Linked DNA regions of Homo sapiens. The protein of the gene in region 2 interacts with the protein of the main gene of each other region in a pairwise test. Each region holds a gene or a part of one and is shown on either strand. Other genes may lie near its edges.

Region 1 (3,527 bases), on a different chromosome or scaffold from region 2:
GAAATGGATTTACATTTCTAACAAGTTCTCAAGTGATGCTGATGCTGCTGGTCAGGACCCATACTTGGAAAACCATTGGTCTACTCCAAAGGCCACAAAGTGGAAGCCCAATGGCTCAGTGAGGCCCACTCACATGTTGTCTGTATAATGTTTTAAAAGCATTTTGTGTTATTTGCAAACATTTTAAAATTGGAAGATTCCTCATTAAAAAATGCAGATTTCTGGTTTATCCCCGCATGTGAAAATTCTGCTGGAGCTAAACAGCAGCTACCCTACCTAGTCCAGGGAGATGTCCTTCCTAGTCCAGGATACTACAGCCCAAATTGACTCTCTCTACATTCACTTAAAATCAATGGCTTAGCACTGCATTTGTGCTTATATACTCAATCCACTTTTTCCCATTCTTTTGTCTTTTTTCCAGCGTCTCACTCTTGACTTCAAACACCCATGGTCCCCTTCACTGCTGAAATTACACCCACCCCATTCTACAACTTGGCTTAAAAATCCCTTCTCAACAAAACCCCAGCAAAAATAGAAATTCTTAAGTAACATACATATTAGAGATTTAATATAAATTTAATATGTATGCTTTAAGAATTGAGGTTTTATTTCCATGAATACTAAAATAACAATACTTATAAAATACATAAAATTTTAATTTTGTTCATTCTGATTTTTACTGTGAAAGAAATTTTTTCCAGAACAGGACATTCAAAATGAATTAAGACATGTCTTTAAATCACACAGCCAAAATATATAATAGCTTCAATGGAATACCTTATCTATTTTGCTGGAACAAAAATAGAGAGAGAATGGGGGTAATTGATGTAATTATCCTGATTTCACAACCTAACAATCTTTAAAGGCAATTTTAATGAAAGAAATGCTTCTAATATTTAAATCTAGAGAATGTTTTAGTGGATATTTACTTCTATCGAATAGCGGGATGGAAATTACACAAAGAAAAACTAAGTGCTGGTCTCTGCTCTGCCATAAATAGCTTTGTTACCCTAAGTAAGTCATTGAGTTCTCCCTGGACCTGTTTCATTACCCCTAAACTGCAGAGATGGAAAAAAAGTGTTCTCCAAATATCTTCCATCTCTAAAATCCTAGGATTTACTCCTTCAAAAGATAAAAGCATAAAAACCAATGTCATACAGACAAGCTTCTTGGTATTAGGTTAGTATAGCTCCTAAATTAGACTGACTTAAAAATCTCTAATTATAGCTTTCAAAGTTCTAACTAAAAATGTTGAAGACTCAGAACTTTGAAAGAATATGTGTTTGTATATGCATTTGTGTATATCTTAGTGATCAGAATAAAATATCTTTTGTAAGGTCAACAATTAAACTTAGGGAAAAAAAAAAGAAGACAATAAAAACTATAACCATGCCAACCAACCAGTAAATTTTAATATCTCAAAAGAAAATAATTAGAAAATTATATCTAAAAAGTTTTTCCATAATAGAGATTAACAACATTTTTCAAGAACGTGTATTCTGTTTCAGGATATTCCCAAATTAAAGTAATTTGGCCAAAATCAAAATTATCAAATTGCAAGATTGAAAAAAAAACTTAGAGACTGTTATATTCAGGTAGATCATGCCGTAAGCGAATTGCTTTCAGCTTCTCCACTTCAATTTTTGCTCTTAGTAGCTCTTCCTCTAGCTGCTGCCTTCTTTTCAATCCATCCCTCTTCTCCTGAACATACAATCCAAAATTTTTTTGATTTTCTAAAATTATCTGATGCTCCTCTTTCAACATTTGCAGGATCTGAGGATCATACCCTAATAGTGACCTAAAGTGTTCACCACTCTCATGCCGAAAAAAATCATCTCTCCTTGGAATAGAAGATGGAGACGATGTCATTCTCATATCAACAGAGGAAAGTGAAGGCGACAAGGATCTTTCCATAACATGTACTAATTCATGTTCTTCTCTTTGCTCTAAAGTATCACTCTGTTGAGAATTTAAAACCAGTGGAGGAGGTGGTTTAATGTCTTCTTCTTGCTTCACCTCCACTGTAATAGCAACAGGATGGTGATCCAACATTACCTGTAGTGAACTGGTACCAGCCTGTGCCTCCTCATCCAAGTTTGCACTATAGCACACAAAAAAGCATTATAATATGTAAATCAAATGAAGAAAAAGTGTATATTTATAGCATAATTTTAATTTAATGTACATTAAATGATAAAGCTTTAAAACTATAAAGTTACAAAATAAAAAAAAATCTTAAACACTTGAAATACATTAAAGTGACTAAGATTGGGATTTCAATAATACATACTCACAGATCTCCCCCATCCTTAACTTTAAAATTGTGCTTTAAAGGAGCAGGAAATTACAAATATTATAGAAGGCCAATGAAGAAAATAAAAAGAAAAGCCAGTTTTCATGTTGTCAAACAGACACCAATCTTTCCCACAACCCTAAGGTTTTCAAATGGTGTACAGAGCCATTTAATGCATTCTCAGTCTTGTTATCCCCATACCTTAGCCCTAGACCTCAGGCTTCTGCTCTCCTGGACTGATCTTAAAACCATGAAGGCCCATAACTTATAAAAGGACAGTGAAAGGCCATCTATGGGAGGTACTGATTTCTGCATTTGCCCAAAAAATAAAACATAAAGATTGTATATGGCTTTGGGATATGCTCAACTACTGGAGGTTATCCTAACTTTCTTATTTCAGATGCTTTTATCTGATAGGAAAAACTTCCGTTTTACCTATTCTGAACCATATGACTCAGATGCTGTTTAAGTCTTTCAATCACTGGTCAGGTAAAGTTCACAAGAGCAATGGTTTTAATCCACAACTGTATACTCAGTACCTAGCAGGTACTGTACTTAGAACCTAGTAGGTGCTCATTATGTGTTGAATGACTGAAAAAAAACAAACTAAATGATTTTTTAATGAAACATTTTTAATGGCCTATACAGATATATTAAAGGTTTATTAAATTTACACATAATTTCCACCAAATATGCATTCCCAATGGAGACAACTACAGCTTTAGCATAATTTAAGCTTCAGCATAACAAGTTATGATATTATAAATGCAATAAACCTTAAAATTCTGTTTTATAAACATAATTTTATGTATAACGTGAAGCTGTGAATTAAGAATATCTGCTCCTTGAGGTTGTTTTTTTTAATTTATGCTTCTGCCTAACTTAAAAATAAAAGTTATAAAGGGAAATTAGATCATTGAACATGAATGGAAATACTTTATTTAATATTATTTAGAGAAGATTTTACATATAATAAGAAACATAATTAAAAGAATACATTCTACATGGATGATTAAAATGCTGGAACAAGTTCAAGCAGAATGCATAGAAAAAGATTAAAACTACCCATACGTTACTTACTAATGCCATTAAATTGCCAGAAATATCAGATATTTATCTAAGAGACAAAATGAAACATATATAGTATATAATAAAAAATCTATTTGTAGGTTATATAAATTCATTTTTGTTCTTGTCTCTGTTTGTGTCATTTTATTATTTCCAAAAACAAAAC
Region 2 (3,663 bases):
AACACAGTAACTAAAATGAATCACAATAACTTATAAGAGAAGCAAAGTTTACAAAATTAACAATTTTTAAAAGGTCCTATTTAATTGGTTCCTCCTTTTCTTCCCCCCTCCCCACAACAGCGTATATAGCGCCATTACTTAATTCCATATACAAATTTGTAACTTTAAAAATACAGTCTTCTGTTAACATCAGGAACATTATGCTGCACTTAGAGACCCTAAGTAAAATTAGAATCCCCTAAAGAGAGGGCCACATAAAAAGTAAATACAGTTTTGAACTCATATTTAAATGGAACTTCTATTACTTTGTACAGCTTTCAAATTAGAAGTTGAATAGAACAAGCCCTGGACAAAAAGCAGCAAGATTTTTCTTTTGAATTCAGTGCATGATTCTAGAAGTGCTTGAGTCAAATCTACTAGAGTCACCATTTATGCAAGCTATCATGACATTTGAGTTCATTATCATCTGGTTACATAAGTGCTCACTGTATTTGCCAAAAATAATCCTAAAATATGATTCTTAAAATAGAAAAAATATAGCTCTGTTGCAATGGGAAAATGATTAATACAAAAAAATCAATTTCTTAAAGTTAACATAAGGCAAATATAAATGATACAATATTATCATACACGATACCAATTTTATCTGAGGTGACTACATCTTCATTTACATCTATTGTGTGATGCAATTAAGAATGACAAAAAAAAATATCAGTGTAAATCAGAAATCTTAGGAAAATCCAGTATCTTTAAAAAGTAATTTAAGCCCAAAACAAATGTGACCACTTATTAATAGAATTGATTTGTTCCATATTTTATCAAAATAATAATAATGTTATATCCAACTAAAGAGTTATAACCAAGTGTCATATGTAAACTTTAATTGGATCCTAGTTTGAAATAATCAGCTATAAAGAAATTTGGAGTTAACTTCAGAAATTTAAATATGGCTTGATTAGATGATATTGGGGAATTATTACTTTTACAATGGTATTACGGATTTTTAGGAGAATGTCATTATCTGTAGGAGATACTTGAAGTATTTTCACGGTGATAAGTATGTCTGTAACATCCAAATGGTTCAGGGGGAAAAAAGCATATATACATACACAAACAAACACATATATGCATATATATGCATAACTAGCTGTATCTATACATATATAGGTATAGAGAAAACAAATGACAAAACATTAACAACTGCTGAATCTAAATGGTAGATATACATGTGCTTACCAAACAGTTTTTCAATTTTTCTGTTTTTAAAAATGTTCATAATAAAATTTGGGGGGGAAGTCATATCAGAGCACTTAAAGTTTGTAAGAGATAGTTTTCTATGCACTGAATCAATTTAAAAGATACATAATCAAATAAGTAGCAATGTGTGCATATACTCAATAATGACTGACATGATGGGCCAGAGGAATTTGTGAAATTGGCAAAAATAATATGATTTATCTACAGTATATGCAACTCAGCTCTTGTAACAAAAAGAACATTTTGTGTACAGAATATCGTGGGAATATTTTAAGACTAAAATTAGTGCTAGAGTATCTGAATATATAAATTCTGTGTTTTTGGACTTGTAAAGCTAAAATGAAATTTAAATTAGGTCTGATATCTGATATGACTTACCATACACTACAGAATTTTAAAAGGGGGATATGGAGGCCGGGTGCGGTGGCTCACGCCTGTAATCCCACCACTTTGGGAAGCTGAGGTGGTGGATCACGCGGTCAGGAGTTCGAGACCAGCCTGGGCAACATAGTGAAACCCCGTCTACACTAAAAATACGAAAAATTAGCCGGGTGTGGTGGCACACGCCTGTAGTTCCAGCTACTCAGGAAGCTGAGGCGGGAGAATCACTTGAACCCGGGAGGTGGAGGTTGCAGTGAGCCGAGACCACACCATTGCACTCCAGCCTGGGTGACAAAGTGACACTGTCTCAAAAAAACAAAGAGGGAGGGATATGGAAGAAGTTATCCAGACTGTTACTACTGCTGGAAGATACTAGCTATTTATGAAGTTAAGGAGCCCAGAAAACAAAATCACCTATAAAGGTCTTGGGAATTCTAGGCAAATATTTATTGAATAAATTTATAACACGTAATATATAACACGTAATAATATATGAAGGCCTTTATGTAAATTAATATTTCAAAGCCCTGTGTACACTAAATATAAAATAGCCAAAAATCAAGTAAGCCTGAGACCTATAATTCACTGTGTATATTATGCTATATACATACTGCACAATGAACAACAAAATGATCTTAATTCATTTCTGCATATTAGGCTTTTAACTATAAATCATGTTCCAATCCCTGTGCAAATTGCATTCCAAAACGCCAGCCCTCGGTTATAATTATGTATAACTTGATTACAAATGGAAGCATTTGGCTGTGACTTATTATGCATGCTTATTGCTGCAAAAGAAATAAGCAAAGTTTTCTGTTTATTGTGCAAGAATTTTAATTAGATTTGCACACATCTCAAAAAATTCTATTGTGTGACTTCCAGGTCTTGGAGTTAGGTCAACAGGAGAAGAGTCAAGTGAGGTCACAGATGAGGTAAGAGAAACTTCTGAGGATTTTCCTTGAGCCTCAGCATCTGAATCACTCCTTTGGCAAGATCGATAGTTGCTAACTGATCCCGATCTCTGTGGAGTAGCAGTCCCTGATTTGGCTTCTGTAATTTCATCTGGGTAAAAAGAATTTCAATTTATTATAGTCTATGACCTTCTCCCAAAAATTTTTGTAACAGTATTGAATTTGCTTCTTTAAGTGGGGCTGCTGGCCAGCTATCAAGAGCACGCTTATTCTAAATACCTTCTAAAACAGTCAATGAGCCTGTATTAAACTATTCATCTTTTTTACATATAGTATGTATTCTCAAGATAGCTAACCAAAGTTGGGTACAGTATAGCTACTCATCAGTTGCAATCCAAGGTTAAGAGCCCAGTAAACCAACAATCTAGGGATTAATAAATATTATTCTATAGCAATAAAAAGTAATCCCTCTATATTAAAATCATAGAATCGATGCACTTAAAATTTGGAGGGTATACTGGAAACCATCTCATCCAGCCCCTCACTTTATTGATAAGAAAACAAACCCAGAGAAATGACTTGCCCAAGGTAACAAATGAACAGAAAGGTAAGTCTAGAACCCAACTCTCCTAAGTCTCAGCTCAGTGCTTTTTACTTTCCACTTTCCCTTCATATTTCATTTAGTATTTCATAAAAGAGCAACAATTCCAATGAATAAAAATCGAAGAAAAACTAAGGTTGGGAACACAGTACAAAAACAAAATGGGCATTCAATTGGTATACCCCAGTACTAGTAAATCTAAGGTTGCAAATTTGATCCAAATACAAGAAAAATAAAACTCATTCCGTATTTCAGACTGCATTAGTATATGTTAGCAGATACGTACTATATGGACCTAAAGATAACCAGACAAACTGGTTTGGCCAACATATCATGGCTCAAACCTGTGTCTTTCTGCTACTATGTGTGTACTATCTTTGAGTTTATAAAGAAGAAAAAAATTCAAACGTGAACCTCATCTAATAATTCTATGCAACCTTCCATAAGCAAAGGTGATACTATATATATATATTTTAATATTTTGTAAAGACAGAGTCTCAGTATGTTGCTAAG

Evidence for each region. Proteins that work in one complex are often made in the same cells at the same time.
Region 1: the proteins of PRKAA1 (region 2) and FSBP interact in binary tests that used the Homo sapiens proteins (3 or more experiments, as listed by UniProt).

Annotation. Positions count from the first base shown.
Region 1 is NC_000008.11:94,430,556-94,434,082, forward strand, and holds part of FSBP (fibrinogen silencer-binding protein), read right to left. Parts: intron 2,102-3,527; coding exon 1,576-2,101; 3' UTR 1-1,575. UniProt on the Homo sapiens protein: Transcriptional repressor that down-regulates the expression of the fibrinogen gamma chain. Represses transcription of GSK3B gene promoter via its interaction with APBA1.
Region 2 is NC_000005.10:40,760,323-40,763,985, forward strand, and holds part of PRKAA1 (5'-AMP-activated protein kinase catalytic subunit alpha-1), read right to left. Parts: exon of another isoform or gene 2,701-3,663; coding exon 2,456-2,700; 3' UTR 1-2,455. UniProt on the Homo sapiens protein: Catalytic subunit of AMP-activated protein kinase (AMPK), an energy sensor protein kinase that plays a key role in regulating cellular energy metabolism.